Linked DNA regions of Homo sapiens: region 1 is linked to region 2. Evidence: fine-mapped expression QTL. A gene starts in region 2. The other region holds a variant in brackets. All regions are shown on one strand. Distances are from middle to middle. Region 1 overlaps PTCHD1-AS (PTCHD1 and PHEX antisense RNA). Region 2 holds the start of PTCHD1-AS (PTCHD1 and PHEX antisense RNA).

The links.
Region 1: its variant is fine-mapped to the expression of PTCHD1-AS in sigmoid colon (GTEx, PIP above 0.99). The same link has a PIP of 0.9 or more in cerebellar hemisphere and prefrontal cortex.

What each region holds. Positions count from the first base shown.
Region 1 is chrX:22,735,300-22,747,657 of GRCh38, forward strand. It overlaps PTCHD1-AS (PTCHD1 and PHEX antisense RNA), which reads right to left. Exons shown (of 12, transcript NR_073010.2): 4 at 7,930-8,039. Among named protein-coding and RNA genes, the nearest start is that of DDX53, 260 kb to the right of the region's middle. The variant C/T (reference allele first, on the strand shown) is at 7,929.
Region 2 is chrX:23,287,143-23,300,194 of GRCh38, forward strand. It overlaps PTCHD1-AS (PTCHD1 and PHEX antisense RNA), which reads right to left and starts at 6,004. Exons shown (of 12, transcript NR_073010.2): 1 at 5,872-6,004.

The sequences.
Region 1 (12,358 bases), 550 kb before region 2:
TTTAAAGGATATGTGTATGGAGGATATGTATGCGTGGTACTCAAAAGACATCCTGAGAGACTACTGTACAAAGAGATGAGCAAAAATATTTCATATATTTGGCAACAAGCCTTATTTTCAACTATTTCTGGAGTGTCTCCATGTTGATTAGCCTGCTTAGAGCCTCCTATGGGCTGTCTACTCAAGATTTGGCATATGGAGGAAAATCACATGATTGTGCAAGCATTTTGATGAGGTAGAGAGAGCCTAGAGAAAGACAGACCATCTGAACTTGAGAAAAAGCTAATCATATTAAGTGATAAAAGCAAGATATAACAGGAACACTTTTATGCTACTAGGGAAAGTATAAATTGGAAGAACCATTCTGGTAAAATATTTTTATCTAATAAAGTTGAATTTTGAGCACGTCCTGCAACCCAGTAATTGCACTTTAGATTTAGACCCTAAGGAAACACTTGCACATTTTCATTAAGAGATATGGGTGAAAATGTTCATACCACTGTTGTTTTTAATATCCATTGATAGGGAAGTGTTCATACTAATGCTTTTAAACATCCATTGATATGAAACAGATAAATAAAAATGGTATATTTTCAATAGGGAATACCATATAGAAGTGAAATGTTCATATATTTCAAAATGGATGATTCTCATAAACAAAATGTTGAGTGAAAAAAAGTTGCAGAAGATTTCCTAAAGTTCAGTATCATTATTTGAGAGTCACCATGCCAGTGTAGCAAAAATATAAAGAAAATTGACAGAGCAGTCACTCCACATTGAGAAGAGTGTCCACTTTGGGGAGTGGGATAGAGAAGGGGATAGTGTTGGAGAGGGCAATATAGGGTGCCCATGGGGAACTTCAAATGTTGCATCTCTCAAGCATGATTGTGAGTTCAGGGGTATTTATATTACCCTTATTCACATATCTCACGTGTGTATGATATTCTTGTTATATATAAAATAACCAATCATAAAAAGGCAAAAGCAAGATAAACTTATTTGCAGTAAGTCAAACTTCATTTTTATATGCATATATGCATAGAACAGGTTCTGAAAGAATTTAAAATACAATATTTTAGCTCATTGGATCATGAGATCATGGTGATCATTTTCTTATATTTTTCAAATTGTCCATCATAAATAGAAAAGTATACTTTTAAAGAAAAAAGGTATAGCCAGTAATAAGTAGCAAATACTTGAAAAAAACACCAATACCTTCAATCAAGTTCTAGAAAAGTTATTGTATTGAATCTCATTGATATTAGGATTCACTGTAAAGAGGAAATACCAAATAAAAGTTCAGACACATGACTAAAAGGCAAATGAAAGAAGGAAATGTTCCCATGAGCCAATGAGAATGTCAACCTCTTGCAACAATTATGTCATAGGAGAAAAAATGTCAGAAGACCATTATAATAAGAAACTGCTTATAAAGCTGCGGAAGGTGACCTTAATCGTCCAGTCATGTTCAGTTCAAACCATTATTTGGCTTTCAGCTGCTATGTATAGCATCTGTGTGATATAGTCATGTTTAAAGGGGCTGTGGCTGTTCATTTACATTTGCAATCTCTCCTTTAGGCTGTTATTAAGATTTCACAGAGTTTGCAAAACGTCTGTCCCCTGAGACCTTGCAAAATGAGTGGCAAGTAAAAAGACTTTTTGATGCTCAATGTCAGGGAGGACGATTCACCTAGCTGTGCTACAGTCCAGAAACACCAAGACCTGTTATTACAATCCTATTTAATAACAAATATGCCAGTTATTGAACTTATATTAACTCTCTGTATAACTGAAGTATACACAATTGTATTTATTGACATACTGAGAGTGGTGTTTGATAACATCATATTGTTTGAAACAAACAAGGCGGTGCAAGTGTTATTCATTATAACACAATATTCAATACTGATATTTAGATTTGAGTCAGAAAGCATGATTTTAAGACTGATGGGCTCCCTGTCATAAACCTTACCTTGTGTCTTTCAAAAATAAAAAAGTTCTTGGTTAGCGTGACCCCTTTTCTCCATAAGCATACACGTCTTATCTTTCTTTAACCCTCTGTACCATGTATTGTTTCTACTAAAGATGTTAATAAGTGAGATTTCCAGTCATCACTGTTTTTCTGGTAGTTTTAGGTACTATGTATATATCTTTTTTTTTAAACGCACATGGTCTCTTAACTAAAACTCAACCAAACATTATATCATAGCTTGAGACAATGTGAAGCATGCTAGGAAAATTATTTGTGAACTTAATATAATTAATTTTGAAAAAGAAACCTAGAAACATGATAATAGGCTTCATATATGGTTTCATAAAATCATAGAACATCTGGTTTGGAAATGGTCTTAATGGTCGGTTAGTCCAACCATTCACCCCGGGCTTAAATCCCTTCTAAAACACTCCATCTATTAGTCTCTATGTCATCCCTGAACTGCCTGTTCCAGGAAGGAAGAATAGAAGACTTTTGGAAGCATTCCATTTAAAATAGGAGGTACTAATTTATATATCCATCTGTGCATACAAAATATTACTCCATGCATTTACTGCTCCTTATTTTAAATGTGGTATGGCATACATTACTGGGGAAAAAAAATCCTTCCCTAGCTTTCTTACACATATTCCTTTAAAAACTAATTTGACAGATCCTGGAGCTTTCTCTTCTTTGACCCCCAAAATGAAATAGTGTCAAAGAACCTAGTTTCTAGGACACATGCGAGGACCTTAAAAAAATACCTCAAATGAATCATCATTTTCATCTTTTAAATTTATTTTGACTGCTTGTGTTTGGTCCAAGCAAGTCAAGGCAAATAGTCACACAGCTTCTTGCCAAGATTATGTTCTAAATAAGAGAGGATACTTGCAAGAAAGACACACTGGAAAACTCAAACAATCCTAAAAAAGCTGTGTTTTATAAGAAAATCACACAACCACCAGATGATCACCATTAGCTGTTAAGATTTAACAGGACAATTCTAAGTTTCTGTGTCAAAGAAAGTTTCATGGAGAAGTGATTTTAGGGCTCTTTTGCCTCTAGGTACAAAAAGTGCTTGGCAAATCCTAAGGAATAATGCTTTTTTACCCTAAAATTTTAACTTGCAGCAATGCTTGAAATCACCCCATTACAGAATCATAGCTTTGGGGTTTAGAGGTCTCTCAGTTTTCAAGATCCCCTGGCACCAAGCTCCTAACACACACCTATTATGGTGTAAAGCTTTACTGAGGGGGTGACTGGTCTGGAATGAAATGCCCAATAGGCTTTTGACAGATAGCAGGGATCTCAGATACTAGAAGATACAGAAAGGGGAAGAGGGAGATTAAAGATAAACTTCACTCCTTGCTCAGTTTTCCCAGTGCTTATCCTTCCAGTGTATGTTAACTTATTTATTATTACCTTTGGTTTATCCTTAAAGTCTTCTTATAGACCTACCTGAGGCCAGGGCAAAGATAGTCAAACACTTTTGTTGATCCAAATGTATGTAACTATCTTTTTTCAGGGATTATATCTCAGTACTTACATCTTTGGGGATGTCTATATAAAATTTATATCCAATCCTGAGTAGCTTTAAGGAGTTTTTGTTTTCTGTTGCTGTTGTTGTTGTTTGTTTGGTTGGTTGGTTTTTGAAATGGAGTTTTGCTCTGTCACCCAGGCAGGAGTGCAGTGGCGTGATCTTGGCTTACTGCAATCTTTACCTCCCGGGTTCAAGCGATTCTCTTGTCTTAGCCTCCCGAGTAGCTGGAGGTGCCCGCCACCACGCCCAGCTAACGTTTTTGTATTTTTAGTAGAGATGGGGTTTCACCATGTTGGTCAGGCTGGTCTCGAACTCCTGACCTCAGGTGATCCACCTGCCTTGGCCTCCCAAAGTGCTGGGATTACAGGCGTGAGCTGCCACGCCCGGCCAGGAGTTCTTTTTAAATTAGCATTATACTGGGCACATATTAGGTGTTTTATAAAGGTATTTTACTGAGAGTAGCTGGAGAACATTTGTAATGGTAAGAAATAGTTCCATAGTGAGTCATTTACCCAGCTACTTTCCAGTTTGAAGAATTAAGTGGGAGTCATTAAGACTGAATCAATTTCTATATATATATTTTCACTTCTAAATTGGCAAAAGAATCTGAGAGGAAGAACAGACTTCAAAACGACTACGTTAATAGAAACAAATGAGCTGTTTATTTTACACGCAGTTATGAATATTATAAATACATTATTCATCCAGCAGCTGAAAGACTTATGTCACTTAAGTGCTTGGGATGATCAAAAGCAAAGTGGTTTCAATTATTAAAAATGGGGAGGTAGGGAGAAGAAACCAGAAAAAAGACTTACTAAATGATGAAGTGCTGTACTGTCATAATGAAAATATGTAGGCCTTTCTAGGTCATAACATTTTAAGTGAATTTAAACTTGTAAGTGCTAAGAAATAAGTAAAGTAGCAAGTAATTCTATATTGCATAGTTAACAATAATTTACTGTATATTTCAAAATAGCTAGAAAAGAAAATGTGAAGTGTTCTCAACACAAAGAAACGATGAATGTTTGAGGTGATGGGTATCCTAAATACTCTTATTTGATCATTACACATTGTATGCATGTATCAAAATATCACATGTACTCCCTAAATATGTACAATTATTACGTAGCAATACAAATAAAATAATCCAGTAAAATGAGTTGGTTTTTGCCTTCATCATTGTCTTATCTTGGGGTTTCCCAAAAATCAGCATCTGAGACAAAGACTGCCTTGCCTCTGAAGGTTAAGTGTTGCTTTTGGCCTCTACCATTCCGGAATTTCCCTCTTTTCTCCATTGATATTAGGAGGTCCAATTGCATGGCAGCATGTCTTTCTGTCTACCCTAGCCTTCAGAGGACATTTCGTTGATCATTGCCATTTCTTATTGCCTGAGTGAAGGAACTGTCCTATGACCCCTCTGGGGAATACGGTCAGGTGGTGGGTTCACTGTTATCACAAAATAAATCTATTCTAACCTTTTACTTCCTTAAGCCTTCTGCACTGTTCAGGTATTCCTGTATCACCACCTTGTTTACTCCAGGTAATTACTGTACCAAAACTTCAAAAAGCTGGCTGGGTGTGGTGGCTCATGCCTGCAATCTCAGCATTTTGGGAGGCTGAGACGGGCGGATCACTTGAAGCCAGGAGTTCAAGACCAGCAAGGGCAACATGATGAAATGCCATCTCTACCAAAAATACAAAAACTTAGTCGGGTGTGGTGGCGTGCATCTGTGGTCCCAGCTACTTGGGAGGCTGGGGAAGGAGGATCGCTTGAGCTCAGGGGGCAGAGGTTGCAGTGAGCTGAGATCATGCCACTGCACTCCAGCCTGGGTGACAGAGTGAGACCCCATCTCAAAACAAAACAAAACAAAACAAAACAAAACAAAACAAAACAAAAACACTTCAAAAAAAGCCATCTCAGAGTATATTAGAGAAAAATTCAGGTGTCCTTGTCAATACTTTGAACCCCAAATCACAGGTGACTGAATAAATAAAAATATAATAGTGTTGTACTTGTATTCTATTTTTATTCACATAAATATATATTTGTGAATGAAGAATATAAAGGTCATTCATTCTTCGGGAGTAGCCAAATATTATTCTTGGATAAAACATGTAATGTCATTGTTCCCAAACTTGTATTCCATTGTTTTGGTTACATGTAAAACTGGTGTTACTGAATATTGCTTTGGCATTACTGCTACAATTCACGTTTTTGAGAAACAAAAATACAGAAACTTCCCTTCGAAATTACTGTCAGAGTGACGTTGAGGACAATGTGTTTCATATCCTGTAACAAGCTGTTCATCAGGACTCTCAAGAGAAATATCTCTTCATGCTCATATCAGGAAAAGATGGTTTTTTGTGAAACAAAACCTTAAAACATATTACAAAAACAGTCAACCTTGCAAATAATGCAGTTCTTTTTGCTTTGGCTACTGGGAAGCTCAGAGCCAAATCTACATTCTACTTCTAGTGATTTAATGGGATTTTACAGTAGGCATTTCTTAAACTAATTGTATCTTCTGGTTTTATTTTATTAATCCACTCTTATTTCCTTTTCCATTGATCTGTTCAACAATTTGTATTTTATTTATTATTTATCACGCAAGCAACTTCAAGGCCTTATTTATACTTACATAGGCATAAATTAATCTAGTTAAAAACAATTGATGTAGAGAGCTATTGAATGTACTACCTTACATTTTAAATTAAATGAGAGATGAGCTTATTGAAAGTAAGTGATACCGCAGAGGTGGAATGGGAAACTTGAAGAGCAGTTTTACGTTGATGAAGAGTAAGCAGCTCTCAAGTCATTAATCAGTAAAGTATACATTTATTATTTAAAAATTACAGCACTGGTAAAATCAGTAATATGGCATTAGACTGATATTTTGTTGCACTGTTTCAAGTCACAATAAAGTTTCAAAGAAACGAAATACTGATTTTACTTTACATGTCTCATTTTCTGCCTAACTATTTAGGTCAGGGAATTTGTCTTTACTTTTAAAAAGTGTATCCATTAAGAATACTAATACTGAGGCTATAGTCTGAGTTTATTTAATTTGCCAATTGAAATAATTCCATGGAAAACTGTCAAATGTATAATTCTGGCACATAACAGAATTAACCTTATATTACAACAAACAAAACTCATTTTAAAAATCAATGAAACCCATATTACAGCAAAATATAAGGAGATAAATTAAAAATATAAAATATTATTAGAAGAGCTTGCCTAGAAATGACGAGCTCTATTGAAACACTACCGCACAGCCAGTTAGAACATGTTTATGCTTAAGAAACGATGGAAATAATTACTAAAAAGAATGACACAAAGAAATATAAACAAGGATCATAAAGCAGAAGAAGACTGAAAACAATGTGTATATAATTGTCGGAATATCAGAGTGCTCTGAACTTTTAAAATCCTGAATCATCCAACAGGATGATGCAACAATATTCCAATCTTAGAATGGGAGGATTTGACAAAACCTTAGTGTTTATCCCAAGCTAGGGGTTAACTCCCAGGGGAAATTATGAACTAAGTGCAGCAATTAATCATGGTGATGAGTAAAAAAGTACAGTAACATCTCTGTGACCAACTCATGGGAGTGTGGAGAAAGTCCCTTTGGCAGCTGTCTGCCCAGCTAATGGTACTTACTAATTAATGGAGAGGCCAAATCTGAACCTACCCTACAGCCTTGTGCTGAAAGCTGCTTTGTAGCTATTCATATAAATGTAGACTGGTCCAGGTCAAAATACAGTAAAAGTGAGGGCACTTTTTGTCTCTATGTCTCTGGAAGGAATAATAAAAGAAAATTATCAGTGAGTCACATGAGGCTCCATAATCCACGATAGACTAAACAGTAAATGTGGCCTTTTCCTAGATCAGTGTGATTAATTCAAAAGTCAGAACCATCTGTAGCAGTTTTAAGAACAGAAATAAATTTATAAAAAGTAATCATACCTTTTCAATAAAAAGTAATAAGTAATACCTTTTAAATATATCTTTTATCAGCATTTGACTGGTAGCAGCCATTTGAGTGGCTATTTCATGCAAGCATTTATCAGCCATTCCGGAAGAGGTGGGTTGCAGTGGGGGCAGAATTCTGGTAACCAAAGAATCATTTATTAAATGGTTCCATTCTTGATCAGTTTAGCTTGCTTATAGTAATCACATCAATTATTTATGGAGCACTTACCATGTGCTAAGACATGTTTTCATGTGACATTTTTTCACTTAGTTACCATAATCCTGTGAAGTGGGTGCTACCATCCTTCCCATTTTCCACTTGAGGAAACAATGGTTTAGAGTGGATAAGTACAAGCCTGGTGTATAGAAGACAGTCAGAAAGTGGGATTAAAGCGTGGGTTTATCCCCATGGCCCACTTAAACTCTTATGTAGTTACTTA[C/T]ATGGATACTGCCTCTGAAGCCATGTTCAGTCAGTTCTCCAGGGAGCTCCATTCTTGCTCCTTGAAAAGTCTTGGTAGTATGCTAGCTGTTCTATTCCAGAATAGAAGCTTCTGTACTATTCCAAAGAAATAAGACATGATTTACAATTTCATACATGGTAAGGCATACACCTACCTAGTTTCCAAGATAACATCTCCTATATCTTTTTTTCTCCTCCCTTATCCCTTGTCAAACTTGAAAACTCAATTTTAGATCAGAAAAGGACCCTAGAGGCTATCTTGTCTGGCCTTCTGATTATTTTAAAATGGTAAAACCAAGGTCAAAAGAGGTTAAATGATTTCGAGTTGGTCAGTAGGGCTCCCCAGTGTCTGGAGTCCCCATCTAGTGCTTTGTCCCATTATCTTACAGTAGTTTTCATCTCTGCCCCGTATTTTTCCAGGCATCTGATGCAGGAAAGGTATGATGAAAATGATTTTTTTCAGTCTAGTAAAGGAAACTTTACCACTGACATTTGGACTGCTCTCATGGTATAACAGAAACACTGACACAGGCTTTAGCAAGCTTCTCTATCGCAACCACAGGCTGTGACTCTGGACACAAACAGTACAGAAAATTAATCTCAATTCTCTGTTTGAACTAAAAGGAAGAAAGCAAACACATGAACGTGTCAGAATGGGGAGTTAACCTGGAGAAGAAATAAGAAGCCAGATAAAAATAGAAAAGCAAGAAAGAACTTAGGAAATATATAGGGAAATATCAGCAGTATAAATCAGATTAACATGGGACCCCCCCTTGTCATTTTTAGGTTTAACATTTCTGATCTGTCAGACAGTTTTCCTATCGCCATTTCCTTCTGCTTCCCTGCAGCCCTTCTTTCTGACACCACTTGGGAAAATAATCTGTAAACTAATTACTAATTGACATAAGATTAACTAAAAAGAGCAGTCACACACACATATGCACATCCACACATAAACTTGTGCCTATACACTGTATAAGTCATGTAAATAATCACACTGTACCCCATAAATATGTATAGTTATATCATAAAGAATTTTAAAAGCCCCAAACTCCACAATTTTTAGACACTTTAGATGCCTACTATTGTAATACATAATCTTTCTTGCAGTGTTTCACAGGGTTCTACTGGTATTTTGGGTGAAACAATTATTCCTTGGATAGACTATCCACACGTGACATGATCATTATCCCTTCTGCCACCAAATCCCGTTAGTTGCAGTTAGTCATCCTGACAACCAGAAAACACCCTTAGGCATTTCCAAATGCCCCCAGGGTGGGGCAGTACTTTCCTAAGTGAGAAACACTAGGGCTGAGAACAAGACTCTAGGTCCAACTCAGAGGAATTATTAACATAGATTGATATATTTTATTCAAGACATATTTACTGAGTGCTTGCCATGTGTAAGGCCCTATGGTAGCTGGCTGCTAGGTGCTGGGGGGTACATTGGTAAGTCCAAACAAATAAGGATTTTGCTGTAATGGATCATGCAAGATGGTATGAGAGACACATATTGATTAAATCTTCACACACACACACACACATAAATTATAAAGTTCTAATAATAGCAACAAAGAGACACATAGTGTTATTAGAGTCTACAGAGGATAAGTTAGAGAAGATTCCCTGAAAAAGTGATGCTTGAGCTGAGATCTGAAGCATAAGCAGGAGTTTACTTGGTGATGACAAAGGGCAACAACATTGTTGGTAGAGGAAACAGCATGTTCAATGCTGCACCGATGACACAGAGCACGGCATGTAAGAGAGATGAACAGGAGGCCAATGTGGCTACACCTGAGAGAATGAGAGGGAGCTCCCTGTGAGATGAGGCTGTAGACATAAGGAAAAGCCAGTTCACATGTGGCCTTGGAGCCTAGTCAATAAGTAGAATACCCAGGCGTAACTAACCAAGTGAAAGCTGGTAGAAAGCAGAAGGAAGTAGATTACATAAAACATTGATTGATCAGCGGGTGTTGTCTCATGAACCTTTTAATCAAATCAGCTCTCATCTGGATGGAGGTCAAGTTTGCACAGATAAAAAATATCTTCAGTGTGTTGTGATTGTGTAGAATGTACTCACTCAACAAATTTGGTACCATGCAAGGTCCTATGAAAGTTGTAACATGTAAGACTAGATATCTGTTGGGGAACGTTGGGGGAATCTGGTGACAACCTGGAAAGGTCAAGTGTTTCAGGGGAATGAACACTGAAGTTGAAGCTTCAGGAACTGGGTCTTGCTACCAGACTTTCTTGCCTCATGGGAACTCCACCAGTCCCTGATCAGAATTTTCATCCCTAAAACAAGGACAAAAATACCCAAGTTTCTGGGCAAGATTAACTGAACTATCTTAAGGGAGAACATCTAACCCAATATAGAGTACATCCCAAGTGCACAATTCATGGTTTTAACAAAACAAAGTTTCTTCAGCTGTAAAGTAAAGGTCATAATAACTTCTCTGACACTCCAAGGATGTTGTCATCAGGCCAAATGGGAAAAGCTGGTAAAGAAGCACAAGGTATTACTATCATCAATGAATAAATGTGGCATGAATGGCACCCTGAACTTAACATCCCTTGTTTTCTCTGTTGTAGAGGCGAACTGCTCCATTGAATACCCTTTTCCTCTTAGCCCTCAGAAAAATCACGGGTATGGGCAAGAAGAAATGATGATATGCAGTTTTTGATACGATGAAATAAACATTACTGTGATAAGATTTTAAGTGCTATAAATCTACATGTACACAAATTTTCTTTGGACGCGTTGCAGAAAACAAAGTATTGTTTCCAAATAAGCCTATGGACCAACATTTTGTCAAATGTTAGCTAATCATGGTTCTTTTTTAAGCAAATCCAGTTTACAGCAATTTGCAGGGTGTACCAATGCTGGGGATGCTCCGCCTCATATCCCCTCAGCCCACCTTTAAATAAACATGTAGGTGTAGTGAACACTTCCTAGTATGCTGATAACTTTCCACTGCAAGTGCCTGTTTTCACTGCTTCTCCATGCAAGGGCTTTCTCTGCAACTGTGGCAGCTTGCCCAGCCTGCTTGTTGGGAAGCCTAGAAGCCTCTGAAACTTAACCGCCCTAGGGATTACCCGCAACCCATAATGGCTGAGAGTTGGCAGATAAATATTTCATATTACTTTGTTCTCTGATGGAATTATTCTGAAGCACGTTCTACATGGTTGCTCAGAGGGTCCTCAATAGGACTGAGGCCTAGGAGTCCACTGAGATAACCTGCTTATTAAAATTCTTTTAGGGATTTTTCCCTTCTCTGTCTCACTTCCCCTGCCTTCTTGTATGCACTTCTTATAATTAACTACCTGAACCCACTTCTTGTCTCGTGATATACTTTTGGGAGAACCCAAGGTTAGACATAGAATTCCTGGAATTGTTCAGTTCATAATGCACAATTTCCACTTACAATGGCACACTGATGACTACTCTAAAAAAAATGGCCCTGTTCTCTGTAGAAAGAGGAGATACCTACTTTTAAACATCTCTTAAGGGGAAAAGTCTAAAATCAAGGATACATTTCATGGGAGGGTGAGTGTGATCTGTTTAGAATATCAGCATTTAGATTTTAAACTGCATTTGAACATTAGGCCACACTAATGCCCACTAACTTTGGAGGGTCATTTACTTTAAAAGCAACTAGTTGAAAGATTAAGTAATTTAATTTGATAGATGGCTTTGTGCCTGAATGTGCTTTAACACCTTTTGATCCTAATTGCCTATATTGAAGGTGTTAAGTTTGACTTGCTAAATAAAGCCTAGAAGGAGTTAACATTTCATTTGAGTGACCTACAAATGCCCCCCAGCCAAGCCTCTTGGAGTGCTTCTAATGGATGCTAAATTATACAACCCAAGTGATTAGCTATTTTAGATACTGAATTAGTAAGGATGCTAGACCATAAGCTCAATGAAGAAAAGAGCTGTACTTATCTTATTCACCTTTCTACCTTAATATGGTGCCTTGTACTTACTAAGTGTTCAACAAAGTTTTCTTGAATAAATGAACACATGGCAACCTCCATTTAAATGACTTTTATTATTCTCATATGAGTTAAGATGGGAGAAGATTTGGCATTTAAATGGTTGGCAATCTAAGGAGAAAATACTATCACGCATCTATCCTTTATCTTCAGTGTGAAGTTATAAAGTCAGAAAGCTACCCCACTCTTTTCTGGTCCATTTACATATTCATATCTGGGAAGTGAGAAGCAAGAGAAAGTTGAAAGACTGCAAGATGTAAGAGTGATCCCTAAAAGAAACACTTCACCCATACAAATACTTGCTTAAACTCACTATAGTCTGTTCTTTCAGAAGAATCCGCGTGAAGGAATCATGGGACTTCAGGTCAGAATGAATTTTGTAGGATATTCTTTATGCTATGCTAGGGGAAAAAG
Region 2 (13,052 bases):
TAGGTAACTTGCCCAAGTTCTTACAGCCGGGAAAGCTGACCTGGAGTTTGAACTGCAATCTGGTTGATACTATACAACAAGGTCCTTTTCTCTCCCCAGTGCTTGTGGTAGTATCATTAAAGGACATTTTGCTTTGAGGTATGTTTAATGCATTTTTTCAGTCCAGCATGTTGTGTTCACGTCACTTCATTTCGCCACAGCCATATAAGCAGAAATTGCTTAGGAACCTGCTGTCCCTGGGCTGGGCTTACATCCAGCTCCACGCTGTACAGGGGGAAGCAGTGCTTCTATTAAATTAATGTGCTCCAACACGAGTGCATCATTCCAGTCACCTGAGAATAGGAAAAGCCTTATCAAGAACTTGCTATTCATTTTAAGCTGCTTTAATCCCCTCTGGTCTGATGCAAATTCATTTCATTAATAATTAACAGTGCTTGGCAGTGCTTTCCCTCAGTCCCAGTTCTTGGTTGGCATTCCACTTTGCTGAACCTGAGAGAAATCAGGGTCAAACCAAGGGAGAAAAGAAAATGAGAGAGCCAGGATCTGGCATTAACCCACCCACCTCGACCCCTATGGAGAAGGCAAGGTAACTATTGAAGCAACAGATATTGGCATTATCTGTGAGTTAGTGTGGATGATCCTTGTAGTTCGTCTTCTTAAATATTACATCTTTAATGAGCTCATCCAAGCTTTGATAGTGTGGCCTTAAACCTTGCTTTTGGGCAGATATTATAGATCAGTGGTTCTCAGCTTTGGCTAGGAATCGGAATCACCTCTAAGACTTGAAAAAATACACATAAAATCTACTAAAGTTGAACACTTACATATCTTATGACCCAGCAATTCCACTCTTAGACTTATGCCCAACAGAAATACACACATATGTGCACCAAATGATACATCAGAACGTTCAAGGAAGCACACAGTAGCCCCAAACTGGAAGCCACCCAAATGCCCATCAACAATGGAATGGAAAAATACATTTGCACACAATGGAATAACATATAGCATAGGATTGAATAGCATACAACTACACACAACAATATAGAATACTCTCACATATATTGTACTGAGAATAAAAGCCATACACAAAGGAGTATATGCTACATGATTCTATCCAAATGAAGAATACAGATATGCAAAACTAACCTACAGGGTTAGATGTCAGGATACTAATTAGTGTTAGGGGGATTAGTGATTGGAAGGGGCTTCTGGGCTGTTGGTTATATTCTGTTTTTCTTGATCTGGGCATTAGTTCTGTGGGTGTGTTCACGTGTAAAAATTCAATCTGTACACTTATCATACATATACACCTTTCTACATGGTTGTTATCCTCTAATTAAAAGCTTAAAATATGTACACATAAACCTATTGCCTCCAGTCCAGTAACCTCCGCACCGCCCCCTCAACACACACGTATATACACACCCACTCACTTCTCCTGGGGAGCCCAATTCAGCAGCCTTGAGGCCCCTATACCCTCTTTTAAGCTGCTCAAATTATTTGATGCTATCAGTGTCATCTCAGTATCCCTAGTTTTCCCTAGCCTTCCAGCATTTGCAATAAACTTCGGTGGTAAAACAATCTAATTCCATTACCATCTGAATGATACTAAAACGTGGGAACTGAAAAAAATCAAATCAGTGTATTGAACAAAAACATAAACAGAATAATGTAAACTGCTCATTTTCAACTTATAAAAAAGAAGCTGAGGAAGAACTTGAACATTTTTGCTACACAGGCTTAATGAGTATGACATCACCTGTCCTTTTTAATAATAATAACTACGAAGTAATAATAGCTAACACATATGCAAGGCACTGCTCTAAGTGATTTACATAAATTAACTCACTTAATCCTCATAACAATTACTTGAAATAGGTATTATTATTATCCCCATTTGGCAAATGAGGAAACTGAGGTATAGAGCGGAGCTAGAAAACCATGATTTCAGATTCTAACAGTATGGCTTCAGAGTTTGTACTCTTAACCACTTCACTATATTCCTGTATATTTTATGCTGCTTAACATACTTTTCCCATTTTAAATGGACTATATTTAATATATTTCAAGTGGTAAGCTAAGTCCACTTGAATATTGGCATCTCAGCTGAAAATTACATGTGAGATGACTGAAATCAATAATACAAGTTTTATGTCAGTTCTTCAAGTGTTGGAAGAAATAGGTCAAACATTTAAAAAAAAAAAAGCCACGACCTAAAGAACATTTCTGTAAGTGTCATCCATTCATTGGCAAACATTGAGTGAGCAGGTGCTATGCTTGTGCAGTGGGTCCAATAGTGACCTCAGTCAAGGGCAAGGTTCAGGCCCCCAAAGACCTCCTCATTCAGCAGACAGACACGGGCCAAACAGCAGAAGAGTGAGTGGAAGTTACACATGTGACCACAGGTCATGAAAGCGTATAAGAAAGGGAAGCTTCCTACTCAAAAAGGTCAGGAAAGGCCTCCCGGAAGAAGTGATGATGGTGTGAAATATGAAGAATGAGTAGGAGGTAAAGGCAAAGGTGAGTGGGGGTGTAGAAAGAGCTGCATATGCATGCGCAAATAACTGTAATGTAAGTCAGAATGAATAAGGACTATAATAAACACACATACAAAAAAGCACAATGGAACTTCAGGACCTTTTTTCCTATTTCATTATTCAAATCACCTGAAATCGTTATACTTTCAGCATGAACCCAGAAACTCTTATATCAGATTCATAGTTGGTCTCACAAGCCTGGAACACAGTAAGATAAAAACCTTGTGGAAAAGGAATTTGAAACAGTACTTTTAACTCAGCATATATTGAAGGATTCAAGACATCAAAGTGAAAAAAGGAAATAATAGTGTTTACCTTTTCTGGAAAAAACGAGCAACAAAGAGGAAAAAAGGAAAAACCCTCAGATGGTGAAATCACCAGTCACAGAAGATATTCTTACAACACTATATAGGTCAGAACTTCCCCACTCCCCACCACCTACCATTGCTGAGGTTAGGCCTACTAGAAAAATAAGAGCACCCTAATAGACCAAAAGACATCATGCAATAGATGAGGAATGTGGTTAAGTACAACTTCTGAGGCTGCCTGATAGGCTCAAAATAAATCCAGGTGCAAAGAATGAATGGTCTTTGCAAATCTAAGCCTGCTCCTCACCACCTCCTGGTATAACTATGATCCAAACTGTTCTCTACTCTCCAATATAAACCAATGGGATCTTTTGAAAATGTACATCTTTCATGGGCTACACCCTCCACCTCCACCCAATAACCCTTCAATGGAACCCATTGCTTGTAAGGTAAAAACATAGCTCCTTAAAGTAGCCTGAGGGTGTTGCCTGGTCTGCTTTCCGCCAACCTCTCCAATCCTATCTTGTACCTTGCTCACTTTTCCTCTATATGTTTCCCCAAAAACAGCCTTCTGGCCGGGCGCAGTGGCTCACGCCTGTAATCCCAGCACTTTGGGGGGCCAAGGCAGGCGGATCACCTAAGGTCAGGAGTTTGAGACCAGCCTGGCCAACATGGCGAAACCTTGTCTGTACTAAAAATACAAAAATTAGCCGGGCGTGGTGGCAGGCACCTGTAATCCCAGCTACTCAGGAGGCTGAGGCATGAGAATCGCTTGAACCCACGAGGCGGAGGTTGCAGTGAGCCGAGATTGCGCCACTGCACTCCAGCATGGGTGACAGAGCGAGACTCCGTCTCAAAAACAAACAAACAAACAAACAAAAACAGCATTCTTTCAGTCCCTCATGTTCACCGTGCTCCATGTTACCTCAGGGTTTTGCACATGCTGCTTCTTCTACCTAGAACTCTCTGCTCAACCTGCCCTCTACCTAGTTGATTCCTACTCAGCCTTTAGCTCTTGGCCCCAATTTCAGACAGGTTATCCCTGGTTCCCTGACTGTGTCAACTCTCCCCATTACAAGCTCAGGTACCTTCCCACCACGGCACCTGCTATAGGTGAAATTTTACATATATTGTCTTGATTATTTGATCAATGTCTCTTAGCTTCTTAAACGCAAGGGTTGGAATTTTGTCTGGTTTTACCGACTTTGTATCCACAGTCCCAGGCACACTTGTTGACTCAAAGTAGGGGCTTCATAAATGTCCATTGTACAAATCAAAGCATTTCATAGAGCTCCTCAATTCCTAGGACTGTCTGGTTAGCATATTACCATATGCTTCCTGGTCACTCTCATAAGCACCATGTATAAAGAAGCATTTTTTAAAAAAAGTACATGTATTATATCCTTGAAAGAGGCATGAAAGAGGGCAAAAAAAGTTGAGGATGATTTGCTACTCTAGACAAGCAGCACATTTCTAATTATCTTGGTTACCTAGGAGTAAAGTATAGTCTCAAGTCTTACAGTAGAAATGAGAAGGAAAGAAATATTTAGCTGCTTAAACCTAATGTTAAGCAAACCATATTCCATCTATAACTAGATGCAGTAGGTTTTTCATTTATTCCCAACATGTTTGATGAATGGTTCACCCTGATAGGAGAAAACGCTAAGTTCCTACTATAAAGGACAATGAAAGGCCAACGAGGTAACATTGGGATTCCAGAAGGCCCTTTACTGCGAATAATTTACATTTTGAGGCTACTGTTTGTTTTTCTCTTTTATAAAATTAAACATAATTATCTGTACTCCATACCTGTCCCATTGGGAGTTTGGAGGAATTAATGAGATGATGTTTGCGGAGTGCTCAGGGCCCCTGGAAACACTATTATTAGAACAGTTAAGTAAAATGTTGCTTATGGTAACCTATGGGGTGACTTCCAGACAAGCAAGGCTGACATCAGAATAAAAAATAGCAAAGTGAAACAAGAAGGACAAAATTACTATTTGGTGATTTTACAGTAATGAAAATCATCCACTTTCTGAATTTCTAACTGCACTCTCCAATCCAGTAGCCACTAGCCCCATATGGCTATTTAATTTAAACCGATGAACTAAATTTTAAATTAAATTAAATTTCTTAAAATTAAAATATAAATAGCCTCATGAGGCCAGTGCTTTCTCCATTGGATAGTTCAGATATAGACTATTTCCATCATCACAGAAAATTCTACTGGACGGCAGTATGAATCTGAGGGGGTCTTTTGACTCTTTGTATCTGAATCCTGTTATTTGACACTTTCAAAGCCTCACCCAGAGTAGGGATTTGGAACTTTATCAGCTAGAAGAGAGATTACTCATCGAGCTGAAGAGAAATTATTCTTCAAAGACAAATGGTTTCCTTTCAAACGCGTTTTGCCTTTTCTATGCTGCCTCCGCCTGGTTAGCACTAAGAATATGTGCAGTGTGGAATGGGTTAAATGTTTCTCTTTTTTCCCTATCTCATATTTCTCAGTGCCCCATCTATATATAAGTGCTGAAGTCTGGGCAGAGAGTAAACCATCTGAGTGACCATGAACACAGATTCATAACTAAAAACCTGCTATATCTGGTTGCCCACAAAATAAGAGACAGGTCATTAATACATTCTCGTTGGGAACAAATCCCCTCTTGTGTGAAATGCTGCTGCATCTCATTTTTCTCTTTATACTATTTTAATCTTGTGGGATTAGGGGGTGGGGTGGGGAACAGAAACGAGCCCAGCGCATTCTAACTTTGTGTGGGTGTCTCCCTGGCTTGGTTACCAAAGAAACCATTATGTTCCATACTATTCAAATAATGGCTCTACTAGCGCCCTAAATACTTTCTTCTTTTCTAACCTGACTGCACTGCAGATTTAGAGCCACCATCTGTTGGCCAGCAAAAGAGAAGGGTTTCTGGAAATGTCACGGCCCTTCCCACACTGTTTGAAGCCTCAGTCTCAAGACTGCAACCTAAGAAGTCTGCTTCTGAAGCCAATTATTTCCTTACCAGGCCCAAGACGCTGTCTCCATGCACCACTGCACTGCCAAACTGCATAAGTGAAAGGTATTTGCAGGCATCCTGTGAGGCTGCCAAGCCTCCTGCCACCCATGCTGCCAGCCTCTTCTCTCGCTGCAGTTGTGAGGGCCTTGCTGCTTCACCCCTGAAGCATGCTGGGGGATCTGGCTGGGATGAGTGCTTCCCTGCCACCCTGGGCCCTGGAGTGAGTCACATCACCATCCCATGGATGCCTATTGCTGATTTACAGAGCAACAAATCCAGCAGCTGGGACCACCTGTTTTCATGGCTGCCAGGATGGGTTGTGCCCTTCAGAGGCTCCCGCGGCAAAGCAGAAGCCGCCAGCCCAGGATGTGATTGCCCCGGGAGAGAGGTGCTGGAAAAGGACCTGGTTTTCACGCTCCACTGCCATTTGCCCTTCCCTACCCAGTCTTTAGATATACAGAGGTACAATGTACTTGGCAAATTCCCTATGAATTCCAGGCAGCCAGGAACTAAGGAATGAGGTGTTCTTGTAAACCTCCAGGTCTCTGCCACAGACGATTCTGAGTTACTCTCCCAAGCAGTGTGGTCACTCTTTCTGAGGTTTTACACAGGAAGTTGAAGGGCTTCCAAATGTCTCCTGTCTGGGCATCTAAGTATAAATCTGGTGAAATTTTGCAGTCTGTTCAACCAAAAGAGTGTTAGTGATTGCAACTTAAGAACCACGGGCTGGGCGTGGTGGCTCACGCCTGTAATCCCAGCACTTTGGGAGGCCAAGGTGGACGGATCATTTGAGGTCAGGAGTTCGAGACCAGCCTGGCCAACATGGTGAAACCCTGTCTCTGCTAAAAATACAAAAAATTAGCTGGGCTTGGTGGCACGTGCCTGTAATCCCAGCTACTCGGGAGGCTGAGGCAGGAGAATCACTTGAACCCTGGAGGCGGAGATTGCAGTGAGCCGAGATTCTGCCACTGCATTTTAGCCTGGGCTACAGAGCAAAACTCTGTCTCAAAAGAAAAAAAAAAGAACAAGGAATTATTCTTAAGATCAGTAGTTGCTTCCATTAAGACCAACATGCATACCACATCTTTTCTAACGCAGTACTTTAAGCCAGGAGTCTCCAAACTTTCGGGGTCAAGCATCCTATTCACATACAACATCTTTGCACGCCTCCAAATACACATATCTCTATTTACAATGTGCATATATATATATAGATATACCTTCTAATATACTACTGTATTATCACATTACAAAACATGCTCCCAAAATTGAAATCTTAAAAGCGTTCAAATGAAAATGCAATATTTTTAAAATTAGGTTTAATTTTGTTTCATTTATTAAAGGCACAAAAGTCACTTTTACTCTCACTGGAAAAATCTGACATTTTTAAGGAGAGAAATATTATCAAACTAGCGCTTTTATTTTTTGATTTAGTTTAATTTAGAGGTATTGTGCTAAATTCAGTTTCTTTTGATACTTGGTTTTTAAAGCTGTGACAGCCCCCACAAAAAGAAAGAGAGAGAGCGAGAGAGATCCCACAAAGACGCATAGATCCAAATGGAACAAGTGAGGTTATTTTACAACCTCATAATACCTGTCATAAAAAACTAATATCTGTATAACTATCTGTGATAACAACATGTGTAAAAAACATATATCTGTATGCTATATGAGATACACACAAATATAAGACATATCTGTATCTACGTATATGTATATCTATGTTTCTGTATAAGTGAATATGTCCCCATTGGGACATACACTAAAAAATTGTTTACGTAAAAATTCAAATTTAACTAGGCCTCCTATACTTTATCTGGCAACCCTAAACTCGTGAAGTTTATTTTTTTCTTATTTTTTTAACCATAAGTAAATATAAATAGGAGTTCTAATATTTTCTTTCTGCATACTTAGCAATGGAGATCATTTCTAAGAAGCTGCCACCAGAGTCCCTGGCCAAACCAGTGTCCTCCTCGAAGAGCTAATACAGCCAAATGCTAATAAGAAACCCCTCTTCACTTAAGTTCCTTAAACCGTCCCCTCCTCAAACCCTCCTTACCCTGTAGTAGCATCGTGCATCAATGCTATGACTGACTGATATAGAACCTTCTTCATTTTTCTGGCCAATACATTTATTCAAGGAAAGGGAAAATTACAGGTAAAGCAGAAAGAGGCTTGAGCCACATGTGTAGGTACATGTGTCAACTCGTCCATCTAGATTCCGCCTCTGGTTTACAGAGGTGGCAGCAGGAGTACTTTACCCTTTTCACCTCTACCACTGGCACCCAAGATCTGCTCAACATTGAAAGAGATCACATGCTAGGAATACAGTGATTATGGCCTAAAGAGTTCTAGAGATGACATGGTTGGAAAACGTGTCTTTGTGCATGTACACTATAAAATTCTGAATGGTAAATTTAACATGACCAGAAAAATGATTTATCACTCATATTTTCCTGCATACTCTGGATAAGACTGTCCAGCATCAACAAAACATGGTAAAAAAAAAAAAACCTCTGAGAGAGTCATTGGAAGACAATACCTGTGGCAGCACGATAGATGATGCCGTATCATGAGTAATGAAGTAGCCAGCATTAAATAAAGGGTTCTAGGGAACCGTAGGGCAAGAAGATCTACGTGATTTCAATACGAACAGTTCCAATAACCCATAGCATTGTGAGTACTATCACCTCTTGCTACCTCTTTCTCATGAAGGGTAGGGGGCAAGGTAATATTATCCAGTGCATTTAACAGTAAAAACAAAACAAAACAAAATAAAACACTAATAGATGGTACCTAGACCTGAACAAGAAGACATGATGGCTGGACGTGACAAAGAATCCTCATGTGCATCGATGTGGCAATAAACACATATGCAAATACTGCATCTCTACCTATTATTCTAAATCTTCATCAATAAAATGTTAAACCTCTCATTGGTACATGAATTTTTGTGATACATTTTTAATTGAACTGCTTACATAAATAGAGGCCCCACACCAAATATTTGCCAGCGGCCTTGCACACCATAGGGGCAGCCCTAGTGCTAAGCTGTGCAACAGTTCTCCTGTGCTGCTCCAATATGCAATTTCACAATAACACATGGTCTCAGGACATTCTCCTGGGCAAGGTCATTTTCATGGTAAGGCCTAACAATTATCGAGTGCCAACTCTGTGTTTGGCACTCTACTCGGGGCTTTACATACATTATCTTGTCTTGTACTTGTATTAAACCAAGAGAAATAATAAATTGCTTTATTTTAAGCCACTAAGTCTCAGAATAGTTTGTTAAGCAGCAATATATTATTGAAAAACAATAAGCTGAGATTTTTTTCGTTGCTCGATTCATTTCCTCTAAACTACTGTGGAGCAGGCAGATCTCAGACTTTTCTATCTCCCTTTCACAACTGCAGAAATTGAGTAGCAGCAAGGAAGGGGAGGAAGATGGACAAGAGCAGGCCAATAGCTTTCCCCTGAGGAGGTGTGAAGGCTGCAGAACCAGAATAAAAGGCCTGTCCTCCCAGATTAGATCCAGGGCCTGACCTCCCAAGCATCTTGCCTCACTAACAACTGGGGGCATTTCTGAAGTAAATGGACAGCCCAGGGATGTGTGACCCTGAAAGCACAACATGTCCAGACCAGGAAAAAAAAAAATGCCTTCCTTTTCCTGGAAGTGGAGATGTCACACCCTATCTGGGGTCATCTGCTCAAGATCTCAGCATCGCTTGCTGCCAGCTCCCTTCAGATAGAGAATGCTGGACACAGCTTTTCTCCCCTTCATCATTTGACCTCTACCAAGACAATCTAGGAAACTCATCATTAGTGCCAGAAGCAGGAAAATGGGAGCCATCTCCTGACAAGTTCACACCAGACAAAATGTTCCAGCTTGACAAGAGACGGGGGAGAATCAGGAACTTTGTCCTCTCTCCTCCTTGTTAATTAGTCCTTGGTTTTGAATTTCAGGGAGAGGTACAAGAGACAGGTAATAAAGAACATACATAAAGCATATGGTATGTTAGATCATGATAAGGAACACGGGAAAATATGAAGCAGGAAGAGGGTAAAAGGAGCGCACTTTGGGTAGTGTTTAAATAAGGTGATCAAAGAAGGCCTAGCACACAGCATTTACCAAACTTATCTAATCAAAGAAACTGTCACAGAGCGTGTCACAGAAGTTAGGAAATGCTGTTTCAAAAAGTAGTTTCAGCTAGGGAGGAGAAGCAGATTAATTAGCAATTGTATTAATATTTGGCTACTAGTAAGAAAAATGTAAGTGGTTTACACAAGATAGAAGTTTCTTTTTCATTTGCATAAAAAAAGTGTGGACCAGGCAATCCAGGGATGCAGGACACCTCCATGTTGTCATCAGGGACTTGAGTTCCTTTTACCTTTCTCCCCACCCTGCTGAGTTCTTGGCTTCCATCCTCAAGCTTGCCGCAGCCCAGGATTTATCTTTATCTCCAGCCATCACATGTATGTTCCAAGCAGAACTGTGCCTCTTACAGAGTCTGCTCATAAGTCCCACCCAACATGTTTTGCCTATATCTCATTGGCCACTCTCCAGCTGGAAGGGAGGCTAGGAAGGCACTTTAGCCAGAATATGACCTCTCATAATAAGATTAAGTTAATTAGTCTTAGTCTTGCTAAGTAATTGCTGATGGCAATTAGCAATTTGCCTCGGGAAAGAAGGAGGGTGTAGTGGAAGGGACATCCCTGCGTACCAGAGTGCAGCTTTCTATTTTGACACAGCAGATTGCAAAGCTGCTCACACATCAGTCCTGCAGCTGCACCGTCCATGTTTCTTATGAGAACCTAGGGTTAAAACGTCGTAGAACACAGACCCCAGCAGCAAAATCACTATACTCCCGTCTTCTGGGGCAATGTGCCACCCAGCTCCTGTTTTGTCCATTCACCACATGGCAGCCAGAATGCCATTTTAATAATGTAAAGCCAGTTATGTCACTTTCCTACCTAAAACTCTCATCACACTTGGAATGAAATCCAAACACCACGAGATGGACGCAGCCCATCTTTGACTGCTTCTTCACCACTCCTCCCCTTTGCTCAGGACTCCAGCCACGCTGGCCTTTTTGTTACATGAACACAGCAAGGTCATTCCCACCTTAGAGCTTTTATCTGGAATGTTCTTTCCCACATGGCTGGATCCTTCTTATCATCCAGCTCGCCACTAAAATATCTCACTTCCTCAGCAAGACTTTCTTGACTTACTCCAGCTAATGAAGTTCCGCCCCTACCAGATAGCCCCTAGCACCTCATTTTATTTTCTTCATGAATTTATAACTAGTTCAATTTAACATGCTCACGCATTTTTTCCCTTGTTCATTATCACCATTATTAAGTTCCATGAAGGCAGAAACACTGCTGCTTTTGTTCTCCCCATACCTCCAGCCCACAGTGAATAAAACGTGGAAGGCTTTCAATGCTGTGGAATGAATGATATGGTTTGAAGTGTCCCCATTCTCTTAGTCACTCCTCCCCAAACACCCTTCAGTTTGGTAGACGACATCATAAACAGACTCCAAGAAACACTACCCAATTCCTAGAAGTGCATCATTAACAAAGAGCAGTATTGTGCTCTTGGACATTATGTAATGTCCCCTGTCCTGGCTCAGTGGCTGATTTCGATGTGTTTTTGCATGTGGATTCATGGATCCATTTTGAGAATTTTCAGGAATGGGAGCCCTCAGGTCAGAAATCACTGCCCCATAGAATTCCATGTGATGATGTGGGACCATGAATCAAGGCCCCTACAGCTCAGCAACCCTCAGTCTCCCCAAAACCAATTTGAAATGCCCAAGTATGTACTGGGGACACCTCAAAGCCAAAATGTTTACTACATAACCATTCTTCTAATTTTAATGGTGAGTTTCTGTTTTAAGAAACAATCTAGAAGAGTTCAGACTTTTTATTGCATATTATTCCAATTTAAGGGAGGTAATACAGAGACTACTATGCATTCACAAAGCACCATTTTTTTTTCCTCCTGAGCATACAGCTGGATTACAGTTAGGAGTGGTTATGTCATTGAGTCTAGCCAATGAAATCTGGGCGAAAGCGATCTATACCACATGATGGACAGGGACTGGATCCCTGAAGGACTGAGTGGAATAGAATCACCCACATTCCCTATCTGAGTTAAAATCTGACATGAACAATAAATAAACTCTCATTGTATTAAGCCACTGAGATTTTTGGAATTGTTTGTTATGACACCGATCCTACCTTGACTCATACAGAGGAATAAAATAAAGACCCTGTCATAATAATAATGTTAAATTTTCAAAGAAAAGACAATTCAGCTTCCTGCAATCTCAGCCATTTTGTGCTGTTACAAATTATGTGGTTTTAACATCAGTGGAAGACTAGCAAAAAGCTTGCGGCTTCTTAGATGACATAAACATACTGTATTTGCTTTTCAAGTGCTGGAAATGTTTCTAACTAAAACATGAAAGCAATATTTTAACAGGCTGACTTGGGGAAAATGCTCAACATGAAAAGACCAAAATGTTTTTCAAAAAGGGAAACAACTCAATATGCTCCCAAAACCCTGCCCAGGCTTTAATCAAGGGACATCCAAAGGGAAGCAAAATGGCTGGACTTAGTCTGAAAGTTATGAGAAATTTTCTGGTAAGGGTAGGATACTATTTAGTTATCATTTAATTTAATATTTACTTCTAAAGGTATTTTTTAAATTAAGGAAGCTATCCAAAATCTTTATCCTGGGAACATGCTTTTATCCTTAAAAAAATAAATAAATAAATAAAAATAGCCTCCTTGGGATTCACAGGATCAAACGCAATCACTCTTTTACGTGGCCACACTTTACCTATTTCTTGCTAACATGGCATATTCAGCCCATTATATCTTCGTAAAGAATTGGAAGACATTTCTGTAGAATTTCAGTTTTTCTTAAATTGACTTCGTTTCCATATATTTAGTAGTAATAATAATAATAAATAATAGTCATAATAGTATCTTTAGTGCACACCAGAATTGGAAAAAAAGGTTTCATATCCATTATCAAGAGTTCTAGTGCTTGATAATACTCTAAACCATTTATTTCTGTATTCCATGTGTGACATTTGTAAAATTGTAAGTTCACAACTTCCTAATGTTTCCTGGACTACCACAGCCCTATACACTAATCATATACAGTAGTTAGTATG